Linked DNA regions of Homo sapiens: region 1 is linked to region 2. A link means that fine-mapping ties the variant in region 2 to the expression of a gene that starts in the linked region. Tissue or cell type: whole blood. Region 2 holds a variant in brackets; the other region holds the start of a gene. All regions are shown on one strand. Distances are between the middles of the regions.

Region 1 (8,277 bases), 32 kb before region 2:
ATTTTTATTTTTATTATTTTATTTATTTTTTTTTGAGACGGACTCTCGCTCTGTTTCCCAGGCTGGAGTGCAGTGGCATGATTTTGGCTCACTGCAACCTCTGCCTCCCGGTTTCAAGTGATTCTTCTGCCTCAGCCTCCCGAGTAGCTGGGACTACAGGCACGCACCACCACACCCGGCTAATTTTTGTATTTTTAGTAGAGAGGGGTTTCACCATGTTGGCCAGGCTGGTCTCGAACTCCTGACCTCAAGTGATCCACCTGCCTTGGCCTCCCAAAGTGCTGGGATTACAGGCATGAGCCACTGTGCCTGGCCTTGTTTTCATTTATACACATACCTGTGTATTGAGTCATGATGTCAAGGGAATTTCTGATAGTGGCTCAGTATCAATCAAATTCGAAAGCCAGTGTCCTGGGCTTGCTTTTCAGATTGGGGTGATGGATTATTTCCTAGTCTTCCAAGGTTCCCCTCATGATTGGTGGAGATTGTGGTTGCCCAATTTGACCATAGGGCCAAGCAAATCCACCTGGCACCAGTTGACAGGACCCAAGCAGTATGTTTCCTTAGGAAAGCTAACATTCTCTGCACTAAGTTAAGGAGCCAAAGGCAAAATGATGGCACAGAAACCACCCCTCCCCCTTTTTTTTTCTCAGACGGAGTCTCACTCTGTCACCCAGGCTGGAGTGCAATGGCATGGTCTCGGGTCACTGCAATCTCCGCCTCCTGGGTTCAAGCGATTCTCCCACCTCAGCCTCCTGAGTAGCTGGGACTACAGGGCCATGCCACCATGCCCGGCTAATTTTTGTATTTTTAGCAGAGACGGGGTTTCACTATGTTGGCCAGGCTGGTCTCGAACTCCTGACCTCATGATCCGCCCGCCTCAGCCTCCCAAAGTGCTGGGATTACAGGCGTGCACCACCGCCCACCCCCATTTTTAAAGAAACCCCATTTTTAAAGTATAAAGCTTCTTTTCTCCCCGCCAGAGAAATTAAGGGAATTCATCAAACATTATAGCAACATTAAAAGAATTTAAAGTGGGAGAAGAGGTATGATCTGTGGTTTCCTTAATACTTCCTTTAATACTTCCTTTCTTTCCTGGATCCAGCTTTTCTCAAAATATGGGTGAGGGAAGATGATTTAGGCGAAAAGGGCACATATTTCTTTATTTAATTTGGTCTAGCTGTAATCTTCTGTTTGTTACTGCTTTTCTGGTAAAGTGGACTGGGCATGGATGTTTTTCTCTGTAGGACAAGCAGCCCAAAGCTGGTCTCCCATGGGACATATGCAGAGTTCTTCAGTGGACCTGAAAGATACAGTTCCCTTAAGGAGAAGACCTAGTTCCCTTAAGAAGATCCAGCACTGGCTCAATTACTTCTGCTAATCCCAAGCCCAGCTCCTCCCACTGCCTCTTACTGATGGGGACTTATCTGCAGGAGACAGTCCTCAAGACAATCTTCATGGGGCTCAAGCTTGGGTACCCTCCAAAGGATCCCCTGGACCATGAGCAAATCACAGCTTCTCCCCCTGCTAAACTGCAGGAACACAGACTGCTCTACTACAGCAACATCTCAGTTGCTTCGCTCCATTCTTGAGAAGAAGATCAGCTCACTTCTTCCCCTAGTTGCTCCCACCAGAAGGCCAGGTTTCCTCTTCTAGCACATCACACAGGGTTTGCCCGTCACTCTTAGAGCCTCCTTTGACTTAGGTGGGAGGCCTCTTACTCTCCAACCCACAAGGCCCAAGACCCCTTGACTCCACTGCCGAGTCTTTCTTACAGATACTTAAAAAAGAGATAGGATTGGAATTTGAATGGAATTAGCTTAGTCCTGCTATAAATCCTAGGGAGGAGGGGTTGGCAATGACTGGCATTCACTTCACAGTGTGGGGAACTTAAGTAACTCCTTTTCTCTAACTCTGGACTCAAGACATCAATTTGGGGACAATGGAAAATGCCCCATTCTAATGCTGTTGGGCATTTGCTGACCTCCTCTCTGCAATTGTGTGGCCTCTTGAGAACTTCTGTTGAGACTTCTGGGTATTCCTAGACTTAAATTGTTACGTACTATTAATTATTGAAGTTTTGTCAGCAGACCAGTCTGACTTACCAATTCACAGTCATGATGTGAGTTTTTGTTTGTTTTCAAAGAGTTCTAAAAATGCAACTTGGCCCTATAGTCAAATTGGGCAACCACAATCTCCACCAATCATGAGGGGAACCTTGGAAGACTAGGAAATAATCCATCACCCCAATCTGAAAAGCAAGCCCAGGACACTGGCTTTCGCATTTGATTGATACTGAGCCACTATCAGACATTCCCTTGACATCATGACTCAATACACAGGTATGTGTATAAATGAAATCTTAGAATTTTAAAAATTATGTATTATTTATTATTTTTTTGAGGTAGAGTCTCATTCTGTCACCCAGGCTGCAATGCCATGGTGCAACAACAGCTCACTGCAGCCTTGACCTCCCAGGCTCAAACCATTCTCTCACCTCCACCTCCAGAGTAACTGGAACTGCAGGCATACTCAGCCACACCTGGCTAAGTTTTGATTTTTTGTAGGGATGGGGGGTCTCATTATGTTGCCCAGGCTGGTCTCAAACTCCTGGGCTCAAGTGACCCTCCCAGTTCAGCCTCCCAAAGTGCTGAGATTACAGGTGTGAGCCACTGTGCCCAGACTGAATTTTTAAAATTTTAAATAATTCAGTTAAAAGAAAAAAAAATAAAAACTATAAATAAAATAGTCAGCTTTTTTCCCCCACCTTCATTCCTATATTTCATGAGAGAAGGAAGGGTTTTTGAAGATGCTTAGATTGTGCTACTAAAAACAGGAGGCATTAAAGCATTTAAAACTAAATTGGTAAAGTTAAATATTACCATACGACCCAGCAATTCCACTCTTACGTCCATACCTAAAAGACCTGAAAACAGGCTCGGCGCGGTGGCTCACGCCTATAATCCCAGCACTTTGGGAGGCCAAGGTGGGCGGATCACCTGAGGTCGGGAGTTCGAGCCCAGCCTGACCAACATGGTGAAACCCCGTCTCTACTAAAAATACAGAAAACTTAGCCAGGCGTGGTGGTGGCACATGCCTGTAATCCCAGCTACTCCAGAGGCTGAGGCAGGAGAATTGCTTGAACCCATGAGGCGGAGCTTGCAGTGAGTTGAGATAGCGCCACTGCACTCCAGCCTGGGCAACAGAGCGAGACTCCATCTCAAAAAAAAAAAAGGAACTGAAAACAGACATCCAAATATTGTATGTGAATGTCCATAGCAGCATGGAAACAGCCCAAATGTCCACCACCAGCTGAAGAATGGATAAACAAAATGTGGTATGTCTATATCCATACAATGGAATTTTTTCAGCCCTAAAAAGTCCTGATAGGGCCGGGCAGGGTGGCTCATGCCTGTAATCCCAGCTACTCCGGAGGCTGAGGCAGGAGAATCGCTTGAACCCATGAGGTGGAGGTTGCGTTGAGCCTAGATGGCGCCATTGCATTCCAGCCTGGGCAATAAGAGCGAAACTCCATCTAAAGGGCCGGGCGTGGTGGCTCACGCCTGTAATCCCAGCACTTTGGAAGGCCGAGGCGGGCAGATCACGAGGTCAGGAGATCAAGACCATCCTGGCTAACACAGTGAAACAAACCCCGTCTCTACTAAAAATACAAAAAATTAGCCGGGCGTGGTGGCACGCGCCTGTAATCCCAGCTACTCGGGAGGCTAAGGCAGGAGAATCGCTTGAACCCGGGAGGTGGAGGTTGCAGAGAGCCGAGATCACGCCACTGCACTCCAGCTTGGGCGACAGAGCGCGACTCGGTCTCAAAAAAAAGAAAAGAAAAAAAAGAAAAGAAGTCCTGATAGATGTTACAACATGACTGCATCTTGAAAACATTAAGCAAAAGAAGCTAGACACAAAAGGTCATATACTGAATGATTCCATCAATAAAGAAATGCCCAGAATAGGTAAAGCTATCACAGAGTCAGAAAGTAGATTAGTGGCTGGCTGGGGTTGTGGGGAGAGGGGAACCAGAAGGAATGACTGCTAACTGGTTTGGGGATTTTCTTTTGGGGTTATGAAAATGTTTCTGAACTATATACAGAGGTGATGGTTGCACAACACTGTGAATGCATTAAACGCCACTGAATTGTGAGTTTTAAGATGGTTTATGTTAGGCAAGTTTTACTCAATAAAAATAAAAATAAACTGAATTGGTAGCTAAGATATTGAAACACGGTGTGGAATCGTTCTCACTCATTTCACGAACCCGTAGAAAGATGCTTGCGCTCAGGCCTCACAGACCGGTCCCAGCGCGTTGGTGGGACACAACTCGGATTTGCAGGCAAGCCCAGGGGCCGGCCCTTTGCGGACTTCCTGGGGACGCAGGACTCCTGCGCGGCGGGCTTGGAGGCGTGGCCAGGATGGGGGCGGGGCCAGGACGCGGCATCCAGGAGAGGACGCGGCGGGAGGCGGGCTTCGCCGGTTGCCAGGAGAACTCGCGACAACAAAAGACGCGGACGGCGGCTGCGCGGTGTGGCAGAGCGAAGCTGAGGAGTCCAGCGCTCGCCGACAGGGGCCTGGGCTGTCCCGAGCCGGTCAGTGCTCGGCGGGCCTGGCGGGCGGTGCGGGGAAGTGGGGCGCCCTCCCTTCGCGGTGCCCGCCCTCCAGCCCGCCGCGCCCGCCGCTCCCGCGCCCCCAGCCGGCCGTTGGGACTAGTAGGCTCCGGCTTGGGGTCGGGGCCGCCGCGGGTGGGTAGCGGAGGGTGGGCGGTTGGGGCGCCAGCTAGGCCTATGGGGGCGTCCGAGGGGTCTGGGGTCGGGGCTGGGAGCCGGCGAGCGACTAGAGGCAGAGCGCCCCTTCCGGAGGAAGTTGGGTCAGCCCTGAGGAGCGGGTCCCGGGGAACACCGATCGACCGGAACGCGGGACCCGGCCTTTCAGAGCGCACCCTGTGTTCGTCTCGTGTCGCTGCACGGCGTGAGGTGCGACGCGAGGGCCACCACCACCGAGCGCTTTGTTTTATCGCAGGCGTCTTTTTCCCACCGTAGAGGTTGAAACTTGGGCGCATTTCCCACCGTAGAGGTTGAAACTTGGGCGCATTTCCCACCGTAGAGGTTGAAACTTGGGCGCATTTCCTACCGTAGAGGTTGAACCTTGGGCACATTCAAGCCCGAGAGCTCCCTCCCTCGGAGGCAGGTGACTATAAAGAGCAAAGCGCCCAGATTCTTTCTTTGAAACACCTTTTAAGTAACACCTTTTAAGTCTCCAGTGTTGAAAATCCTTGTTGTTTGCCCTTCTTTACTCTTTTGTCGTCTTTACGCATTTGGGGCCTTTTCTGAGCTCCGTATGCGATTTACTGTCCATCTACTGGCAAGTTTTTTATGAAAATAATTAACAAACCACACATTTAAGACAACCACTGCTTTCTGGGAAATCAAGGGTACGGGATGGCAACGGTTTTTGGAGACACTCATTCCTGACCAGTGACATGACATGAGGGATTCAATATTTCTCTTGCCTTTGCTCAGATTTCAAAAACCCGTTGAGTATACTTAAATACGACCAATCAGATTTTGCTTTTTTTTAAATCATTTATTGGCAACATAATACGTATGTTTCTGATGACTATAATTGATCAGAATCTGAAGTATAAGTGCTATGGATTGTGTAAAAACTTTATTTCTTGTATATTGATGTTTTACAAGCCCTATGTTTGTGGACCATTACTATTGTTTGTTTGTTTTGTTTTGAGACAGGGTCTCGCTCTGTTACTCAGGCTGGAGTGCAGTGGCACACTGCAGCCTCAACCTCCCGGGCTCAAGCGATCCTCCAATCTCAGCCTCCCAAGTAGCTGGGACTACAGGTGCGTCACCACAGCCTGGCACATTCTTGTATTTTTAGTAGAGACAGGGTTTCACCATGTTGCCCAGGCTGGTCTGGAACTCGTGGGCTGAAGCGATCCACCTGCCTTGGCCTCCCAAAGTGCTGGGATTACAGGTGTGAACCACTGTGCCCGGCCCCATTATTATTTTTTTTAATGCTTAGAATAAGTTTCAGTTGCCTTTATAACCAAATTCTTTATAGATATTACCATTAAAAACCCCAAGAAATGAGGCTGGGCATCGTGGCTCACATTTGTTTTGTTTTGTTTTCAGGAGGGATCCTCTCGCTTCAGCCTTCTGAGTAGCTGGGATTACAGGCGCACGCCACCATGCCTGCCTAATTTTTGTATTTTTAGTAGAGACAGGGTTTCTCCATGTTGCCCAGGCTGGTCTCGAACTCCTGGGCTCAAGTGATCCACCCGCCCTGGCCTCCCAAAGTGCTGGGATTACAGATGTGAACCACCGTGCTGGGCCATGGTTTTTTTTTTTTCAAGGGTAGTGAATATTATCAATTCATTGTTGTTAGTGTTATTAATAAAATATTATTTCAGTCTAGTTGTCTGTGTTACTTAATGGTAATCTTCAAGACTCAGCAGCTTTTCCAAAGAACCTAACCTCACCTCAAATTCATTACTTTTCATCATCTGCACTCAAACATTGTCATAGATTACTTGTTAAATTTTGTATAAGCTTTATCCTTCCAAAACTGAACATTTGTATGTAAGTTTTTATGCGAACACAATGTTTTCATTTCTCTTGGGAGTGGAATTGCTGGATCATTTGATGGAGTGGAATTGCTGGGTCAAGAGATAACTGTATGTTTAACTTTTTGCAGAAATGTCAGTCTGTTTTCCAAAGTGGCTATACCATTTTACCTTCCCACAAATAGTGTATGAGGGTTCTAATTTCTTTATACCCTGCCAACACTTATGATCTGTCTTTTTTATTATAGCAGTGCTAGTGGATGTGGATTGGTATCTCATTGTGGTTGTTGTTTGTTTGTTTGTTTGTTTGAGACAGTCTTGGTGTATCGCCCAGGATGGAGTGCAGTGGTTCGATCTCAGCTCACTGCAACCTCTGCCTCCTGGGTTCAAGCGATTCTCCTGCCTCAGCTTCCCTAGTAGCTGGGATTATAGGCGCCCACCACCATGCCCGTCTAATTTTTGTATTTTTAGTAAGGACGGGGTTTCACCATGTTGTTCAGGCTGGTCTCGAACTCCTGACCTCAGGTGATCCTCCCACCTCGGCCTCCCAAAATGCTGGGATTACAGGTTTGAGCCACTGCGCCTGGCTAATTTTTGTATTTTAGGTAGCAATGGGGTTACACCATGTTGTCCAGGCTGGTCTTGAACTCCTGACCTCAGGTCATCCTCCCACCTCAGTCTCCTAAAATTCTGGGATTACAGGCATGAACCACTGTGCACCTGGCCTCTCATTGTGATTTTGATTGCATTTTCCTGATAGCTAATGATGGTGAGCATCTTTTCATGTGCTCATTATTCATTTGTATATCTTCTTTGAAGAACTGCCTTTTCGGATGCTTTGCCTATTTAAAATTTTTAAAAAACTTTTTGAGTTATAATATTTATATATTCTAGTTGCAAGTTCCTTGTTAGATATATGTCTTGCAAATATTTTCTCCCATTCAGTGAGTTGTCTTTTCACTTTCTTGGTAGTTTCCTTCGAGGCACAAAGTTTTTAATTTTGATGTCGTTTTTCCTTCCCTCCCTCCCTCCTCTCCCTCCCTGTCCTGCCCCCCCCCCATTTCTCTCGTTCTCTCTTTCTCTCTCTCTTTGAGACAAGTTCTTGCTCTGCTGTCCACATTATAGTGTTGTCCACGTTATAGTGCAGTGGTGCAGATACAGCTCACTGTAACCTCTGGCTGCTGGGTTCAAGCCAATCTCCCGCCTTAGCTTCCCAAGTAGCTGAGACCACAGGTGCGTACTACCATGCTGAGCTGATTGAAAAAAAAAATTTCTTTGTAGACATGGCGTCTCACTATATTGCCCAGGCTGGGTCTTACTTATTTTTTAATCTATACTTCATCTTTATTTTTTGCTTTTATTATTATTTTTGTTTGACAAAATCATTGTACATATTTATGGGGTACAGTGTGATTTTTCAGTACATGTATACAATGTATAATGTTCAAATTGGTATTTTTTATTTTATTGCTTTTGGTGTCATATCTGAGAAATTATTGCCAAATCCAAGGTCATAAAGAGTTACTCCTGTCTTTTAAGAGTTTTGTAGTTTTACTTCTTATGTTTAGGTCTATGGTCCATTTTTGGTTAACTTTTGTATATGATATGAGGTAGGGAGTCCAACTTCATTATTTTATCCATTGTCCCAGTGCCATTTGTTGAAAAGAGTATTCTTATACTTCAGTTGAATT
Region 2 (8,000 bases):
TCATTGTGACTTTTTTTTTGACTTGTGAATAACATAGTTATTTTATTTACAGGACATGGGGGATTTATTTTTCTTTAATCAATTTTTATTGCATTGTGATCAGATAACATACTATCTCTGATTTCAGTCCTTTGAATGTATTGAAACTTGCTTTTTGGCTCAGAATAAGGCAAATGTTTGTAAATGTTACAGAGGTACTTGAGAAGAATATGCATTCTGCAGTCATTGGGCACTGTTAATCCTATTATTCAAATCTACATTTTTTACTCACCTTTGAAGTCTTTTTGTTATATCAGTAATTTATAAAGTGATGTTAAAATCTCCCACTATGACAGACCTCAACTCTGTCACCCAGGCTGGGGCACAGTGGCACGATCATGAGTCACTGTAGCCTCGACCTCCTGGGCTCAAGCAGTCCTCCCACTTCAGCCTCCTGAGTAGCTGGGACCACAGGTGCACACCACAATGCCCTGCTAATTCTTGTATTTTTTGTAGAGAAGGGGTTCTTCACCATGTTGTCCAGGCTGCTCTCAAACTCTTGGGCTCAAGTGATCTACTGGCCTTGGCTTCCCAGCGTGCTGGGATTACAGGTGTGAGCCACTGTGCCCAGCCCTACTATAATTTTGGATTTGTCTTATTTCTCCCTGAAGTGCTGATAGTTTTTGCACTACAAATATTGAAGCTGTGTTATTAAGTGGACACAAATGTAGAATTGTTATACCATCCTGGTGAATTGCTCTTTTAATCATTTTTACCTCTTCTTATCTAATGAGTTTTGCCTTAAAGCTTACCTTGACATTACTATAGCTACACCAGCTTTCTTTTGATTAATATTTACATGGTATCTCTTTTTCTATCTTATTTTTAATCTTTCTGTGTCTATTTTAGATATGTTTCTTGTAAGCAGCATATGGTTAGATAATCTTAAAATCCTTTCTGATAGTCTTTATCTTTTAATTTCATTATTCATTCATTAATTTAACATAATTACTGTTTTGGTAAAAATCCACCATTGTGCCTTTTATTTATCCTTCCTCCTCTGTGTTCCTTTTTCCCTCTTTTGGATCATTGGTTATTTTTTCTTTTTCTGTTGTTTTCTCCACTAACTTAGAAGTTATAGTTTTACTCTTTTTTTAGTGGTTATCCTAGAGAGTATACCATGCACCCTAATATTAATTGGTACTTTTATCCTTTTCCCAGGCAATGTAAGAACTCCATTGAATCCTTTGATGTTGTATATTTTAATTATCTGAATACGTGATTTTTAAGTAAGGTTGCATTTTTATTGCTCAGCATTTATACAATGAAAATGTAAGGTTTTTTTTCCTATTTCAACATTGTAGTACATGTGAAGTATTAAGATGAATGACTGTTTCTTATTTACATAAATTTGTGCTTGTAAAACAAAGATTGACATTAGAGCTTTCTAGATTTGATACACTTCAAAAATTTTCTTTAGAGGATACACAAAAAATACTAAACCACATATACACAAACACACACACACATTCCTGATACACAATTTGTTCTGCCTTTGATTTCCAAGTTCTCCTTCCTCTCAGGACTATCAGTTGGCTATCTTCTATCTGTCTGCTTTTGGCTTCCTTTTTCACTAAGGCTTTCACTTCCCTGCACTTGTTACCTCCTTCTGCCTCCTTTGCTGCAAACTCTGCTGCCTACAATTCTTTCTCCACTTTTTGAACTTTCTTGTTTCTTTTTACTTCTTGGATTTCACTCAGAAAGTCCATACTTTAATAAAGATAGCTAATCAAAGTGCTTCAGGTTGGCAAAGCATCCAGTCACAGTGGATGGCGTGTTATCTTTGAGTATTTGACTTTTGACTTTTTTGGCTGTGTTTGTTGCTCCTTACTATTAAAAAGGTTTTACCACTCAGAACAATGTTAGTTACTTGTGAACACCAGAGAGCTAGTCTCTGGATAAATGAGAATTGACTGTATTATTAAAGTAGTTATGATTTTGGTCAATGTAAAATTCATTTTTAATCATAATCTAAATGTACTGAAGTGCTCTATATTAAAAATTTTCATCTCTCTTCTACAAAGAATGAAAAAATAATAGAACAACAACTTCTTGTGGATCAACTGAGTGAAGAACTAACAAAACTTAACCTGTCAGTGACTTCTTCAGCTAAAGAAAATTGTGGAGATGGGCCAGATGCCAGGATCCCTGAAAGGAGACCATATACTGTACCATTTGATACTCATTTGGGGCATTATATTTATATCCCATCAAGACAAGATTCCAGGAAGGTAAAGTCCAAACAATCTTTTCCTTATTTGGAGATTAAAAAAATTTTAGCCATGTGTAATATCACAGTGTATTTATACAGTCTCAGCAGATTTTTTTTGTTTGATTTTATGGAATTTTGTGTATACCTTTTCTTTTAAGCATACTTCTTTCTAATAAAAAAACTAATAAACAAGAGAATACACAGTTACATTTGGAGGGAATAGTTGGATGGAGATAATGTCCATACTTCTTCAATGTGAAAAAGGTATCCTTTGCCATATTTTCAGACATGACCAAGTTTAATATCTACATGAATTTATTTCTTCCTTTAACCACACAAAGTTGAGATGTTAGAGGATATTTATTTCAACTTGTTTGGTCTGTCATTTTTGAAATAATATTTATATGCTGTTCAGTCTTACCAAGTAGACATAATCAAGACAATATAAATATCAATATAAATTTTAGTTTGTGTGTGGTTGGTAAATATATACACACACAGTTTTAAGAATTATCAAAGAATCTCTATTATGGAAAAGACGTAATTAGCAGATTCATGAGTTTTGGTTTAGCAGGTTCATGAATTCTGGTTTCTGTTTCCTCATTTTATGAAGGGAAATGATTTGTTCACGTGAGATCCATCTGGTTGTTACAGTCAGAGGGATAAGAAATGAAAGGCAAGTGATACATGAGCAGTGTCATGGACTTTGCATCAGGCAGCCTTGGGTGGTATGAATACTATAATAGCTCTGGACATTTGGTTTTCTTTGTAAAAAGAAATTTTAAAAGGAAATTACAATCCCAGAGAATGAAGTTGGACTCTGAACAAAGATTTTATTATTTGCTCCTTAAATAATTCCCAAACTCTCACAAAAGAAAACTAGATGCCTGCCAGTTATGGGATAAAATAGCCATGTCTAGTACGTTGTATTTGTTAGATCAGTACTTCTTGAGTTGGTTCTTCTTAAAGAATTCCCCTCCCTCATACCCCATTGGGAGGCCACCTAAAAAACTTTACGCCCATCTATCATGATGCTGATGTGACAGATGATCTAATTAGGTGACTGACAGCAGAAGCACAAAAATCAGATATAAGATGATTTTCAGAATCAGGTAGGATTTTTTAGGAGAGAATACATGACGGGGGCCTATTGTCAAGTGATTAAATCCTAAACACTGTGTGATACTCATATTCCACTATATGTTATAATTTTAACAGCTTATAATAATTTATATTGATAAATGGACTGTCTCCTCTAAGATTTTATTGCCTTTTGAGAGAAGTCATCTTGAGATTTGGTTACAGAGATGGTGCAGAGGAAATATTTTGTAATAGAAACCAGAACAAAGGTATAAAGGCAATTTCTAATTTATTGTTGTTGTTTTCCAAGGTCATTTTTTTTTGAGAATTTAAAGTGCATTTCCAATAGAAGAATGTTGTACTATAGAAAACTCCCAGGCTAGCCATACGATTTTATTTGTCCTATGACATATATTAAATATTTTTCCTAGAGCCTTAATTCAGCTATACCTAACTACCATGTATAAAGAATAAGTATATACATTGTGGTATTCAGATTAGGAATATTGCCCTGGCAGAGGGAGTGGAGACGGCTCTGGGTTTCTTCCTGTGGTAGGATTTGGATTGGAGGGGATGCAGACCTTTGGCGGCAGCACCACAGTTCTCCAGGTGTTCTGAACTGGGAAGATGGGGAAGAGGGTACATTTGTTGGGGTGTGTCTGTGTTGTGTTTAAGAGCTAGGATGTTTTCCATGCGTTCTTTTGGTTTCATTTTTGAATACTGTTTTCTGTAAGTGAAGATAGAAGAGTTGTCCAGAAGAGAAGGAGCTGTGTGGATTCTGAAAGAAGTATTTGTCTGTGAGGCACAACAGTATTGTTAAATTAATTTTGACCTTTGTTTGAGGGGAGCATTTTCCAGTGATTGGCTATTTTAAGAGTGCCAATCTAATAACCCCTTTAAAAGCACTTAGAGTAATAGGATAAAATTAGACTTTTAAAATATCACTTTTTTTGTTGTTGGGTGG[G/A]GGAATCACTTGCAAGGTCCACACAAGTCCGCCTATGTACTCTCTGGATCGAATATTTGCTGGATTTCGAACACGAAGTCAGATGCTGTTGGGTCACATAGAAGAACAAGATAAGGTCCTCCACTGCCAATTTTCTGATAACAGTGATGATGAAGAATCAGAAGGCCAAGAGAAATCTGGAACTAGGTATGTTAAATATACACTGATTTAATAAATATTTAGAATTATATGCTGCAATAAATATAGAAGTGTAGGTTTTTTCCATTGGAGTATATCTTTTATGTTTAATAGAAGAGTAGGTAACTTTTGCTAAAAGTACTATCATCTAATGTGTTATGAAAATAGTATTTGAACACAAGTCATCAGTCTTATAACTGAAAAATAATTTTGCTTTTAGAGCTTTTATAGTAATGAGATTCTAATTTTCAGAGGTTTTTTTTTTTTTTTTTTTTTGGATTTCCTTATTCTGCTGCCACGTTGGCAACAAACATGACTTTTCTACTGGATTCAACATGGATGGGGGGGGCATCCTTTTATTTTGAGCAATATTAGTAACATTCTGTTTTTATATGTAACTAATAATTTTTTTAACATTACTTTCACTTTTCGGGGAAACTAATTTGAGGGCAGATTAGAAAACACGAACAAATAAGTTAACTTTCTGATTTTTTTTTAAGATGTAGAAGTCGTTCATGGATTCAGAAGCCAGACTCTGTTTGTTCCCTTGTTGAATTGAGTGATACTCAGGATGAAACACAAAAGTCAGATTTGGAGAATGAAGGTACATAGATCTTCTTAAATAATGTAGACCTAATGGTTATAGGACACTTATCTTTTTCCTCAGTTGATAATTTAAGAAACATCCAGGAATTCTCAAAGACCAGAATTTGGTACAAATGCTTTCCTAGTTGGTAGAACTTCTTTTATGTTCTCTGTTTTACCTCTTTTACTCTTTTACTCCTTAATAAAAAAAGATTTTCTATCAATTAATTATAGCGAGAGATATAGGCTAACTCCCTCAGAATAAGGATTTTTATATTCAGACCTGAATTGATATGCTTTGTATTCCTGATGATGTTAAAATACAGTATAAATAATTGTACTAGGTGTCTACTCCTTCACTGGGACTTGTGCCTAACATCAATGATGTATTTGGCATTAGAGCCCAATTAGTGTACTGGGTGTTGGTAATGTTTTAGTACACAACTGCTAAGAATTTTTATGCATCAATAAGTGCTGGGATTACAGGCATGAGCCACTGTGCCCAGCCGGTAGTAGGAGATTTTGTTAACTCATCTCTCTTGGTCAATGCGTGGTTGACCCACAAAAAATAAGGGAATAGGGATAATACAAGTGCTACACTTTGAAAATATAGAGCATCTCTTTAAGAACCTATACGTGGCTTTATGAGCCAAAAATTTAAGTATAACTAAAATAAATTTCAAAATGTGGAAATAATAAAGGTAAATGCTACTCAAGCAGCCATGCTTGAGCTGTTTGTTACTGCTCTGCAACCAGGAAAAAAACTTACGTCGGAATGTAAATGAGCTTACACTAGTTCCTTCCTTGAGAAAGTCTGGCTATGAAAAAAATGTCACCTGAACTAAAGCAGTGTGCTTAGTGACATAGTTGATTTACATTCTGGTGCAGGACAGTAACAAACAGTGCTAGACCACACTCTGAGTAGCCTGGTATAGTCTGCATTCTCCAATTACAGTAAAAGTAGAAGTTGATAGGAAACAAATTCACCCCTCTCTCCATCTGGAAATTTTATACCTATCTCAAATAACTCATGTTAAAGGCAATGAAAAACTGTGTGTCTGAACTTATGGGATATTAAGAAAGAATATATACATACATGTATTAATTTGTAAGAAAATAAAAACTCTTACTGTAAGCTGGAATGCTAGAGTCCCAATTGCTGTGTATTTTTTCCCCTTTTTCCTCCCCTTCCTTTTTGTCTCTTCCACTGCCACCTCTAAATTGCTTTTGAGTCTGCTTTTCTTTTTTTAACTCTACTTCTGTTGAATATTTTACCAGCAGATAGTTTTATTTCTCCATTTTTTTTTAAAGATTTAAAGATTGATTGTCTCCAGGAGAGTCAAGAATTGAATTTGCAAAAATTAAAGAATTCAGAACGCATACTTACTGAAGCTAAACAAAAAATGAGAGAACTTACAATTAACATCAAGATGAAGGAAGATCTGATTAAAGAATTAATAAAAACAGGTAATAGTATCTTGTGAACCAGCTTAAATGAGAAAGAAAACTTCTTAAAATTGCTTCTGATGTGGTAACAGTTACTTTAGTTTTTGAAGCTCAGGTCTATCCACTTAGCTTGGATTGGTGTAACAAGGTGAGTTTTTAGGCCAATATGTGGAGGTTAGTTATCAGAAGAATTTTGTTGTTTTGGGATTTCACCTCTGAATTGTTCTAACTGGTGTGAACTCTGCATTGTGCTGAAATTCTGTGGCACTTAATGTACCAGTTACAACATGTTTATTTTATTTTTTTGAAACAGGGTCTCACTCTGTCACCTAGGCTGGAGTGCAGTGGTGCAGTCATGACTCACTGCAGCCTTGACCTCTGGGGCTCAACCAATCCTCCTACCTCAGCCTCCCAAGTAGCTGGGACTACAGGCGTGTGCCACCATGCCCAGTATGCGTCAGTAGTTTTTATAATTTTTTTTTGACAGTGTATTAGAATTGATAAAATATAGTATAGATATTTTATCTATAAAATAGATAAAATATAGTCCTGTTATTATTAGTTGGCAGAAGCAGCTGCTATTCAAGAGAAGTCTTCAGTGAGAGGGCATTGAAAAGTAAGCACTCACTGACAACTTTTGTTAGTCACCATCTCTGAGGATTTTTAGGAAAGCTCCAAATTGCCCTTGGTTCTAATGAGCAAGAAAAGGGTCTTCTCTGTATAAGCTCTGGTATCCTCTATTTTAAAACAACCACGTTGGGTATACCAGGCTACAAACACATGCTTGTTTAATGAGATCCATAGTAAGATAACCTTTCTGAAAGAAAGTCATTGATTCTATTGGGTAAATATCCTCAACTTCCACAGGCAGTACCCTGAAATCTTGGGAATGGAGAAACCATTCTAGATCAGCTCCTAGATACTCCTAAGAGGGGTCAACTGGTGTTTGATCCTGCCTGTGGGGAAGCAGCATGGCCAAACTCATTTAAACATCTGCATAACTGGAGCTAGGATGATGCATAGCACATATGTCACTAGGAATGAGAAAGGAAAAAGCTTTGGGAAAGTAGCTAAGCAGAGGATGCTTCTTAAAAAATGTCAAAAAAAAAAAACAACACAAAAAACTTAATGCCCTTAATGCTCTCTCACTGAAGACTTTTCTTGAATAGCAGCTACTTCTGCCAACTAATAATAACAGGACATCTATACTATATTTTATCAATTCTAATACACTGCAAAAAAAATTTATAAAAACTACTGATGCGTACTGGGCATGGTGACACACGCCTGTAGTCCCAGCTACTTGGAAGGCTGAGGTAGGAGGACTGATTCAGCCCCAGAGGTCAAGGCTGCAGTGAGTCATGATTGCACCACTGCATTCCAGCCTAGGTGACAGAGCAAGACCGTCTCAAAAAAATAAAATAAACATGTTGTAATTGGCACTGTATATTTTTTTAGTGGTTCATAAAATATTGGTGTGTTGAACAATTAATGAAT

Evidence for each region. PIP is the estimated chance that this variant, and not a neighbour inherited with it, causes the effect.
Region 1: it holds the start of KIF27, and the variant in region 2 is fine-mapped to the expression of KIF27 in whole blood (TOPMed, PIP above 0.99).

Annotation. Positions count from the first base shown.
Region 1 is chr9:83,917,692-83,925,968 of GRCh38, reverse strand. KIF27 (kinesin family member 27) reads left to right here and starts at 4,537. Exons shown (of 18, transcript NM_017576.4): 1 at 4,537-4,598. LOC105376335 (serine/arginine repetitive matrix protein 1-like) reads right to left here and starts at 5,068. Exons shown (of 3, transcript XM_011519284.2): 1 at 4,708-5,068; 2 at 4,271-4,615; 3 at 1,084-1,303. The coding sequence starts at 5,068. The coding sequence ends at 1,167. RefSeq lists enhancers at 3,137-3,641, 4,256-5,005 and silencers at 4,375-4,524, 4,555-4,934.
Region 2 is chr9:83,885,565-83,893,564 of GRCh38, reverse strand. It overlaps KIF27 (kinesin family member 27), which reads left to right. Exons shown (of 18, transcript NM_017576.4): 6 at 2,064-2,270; 7 at 4,312-4,481; 8 at 4,973-5,076; 9 at 6,369-6,524. Among named protein-coding and RNA genes, the nearest start is that of KIF27, 32 kb to the left of the region's middle. The variant G/A (reference allele first, on the strand shown) is at 4,296.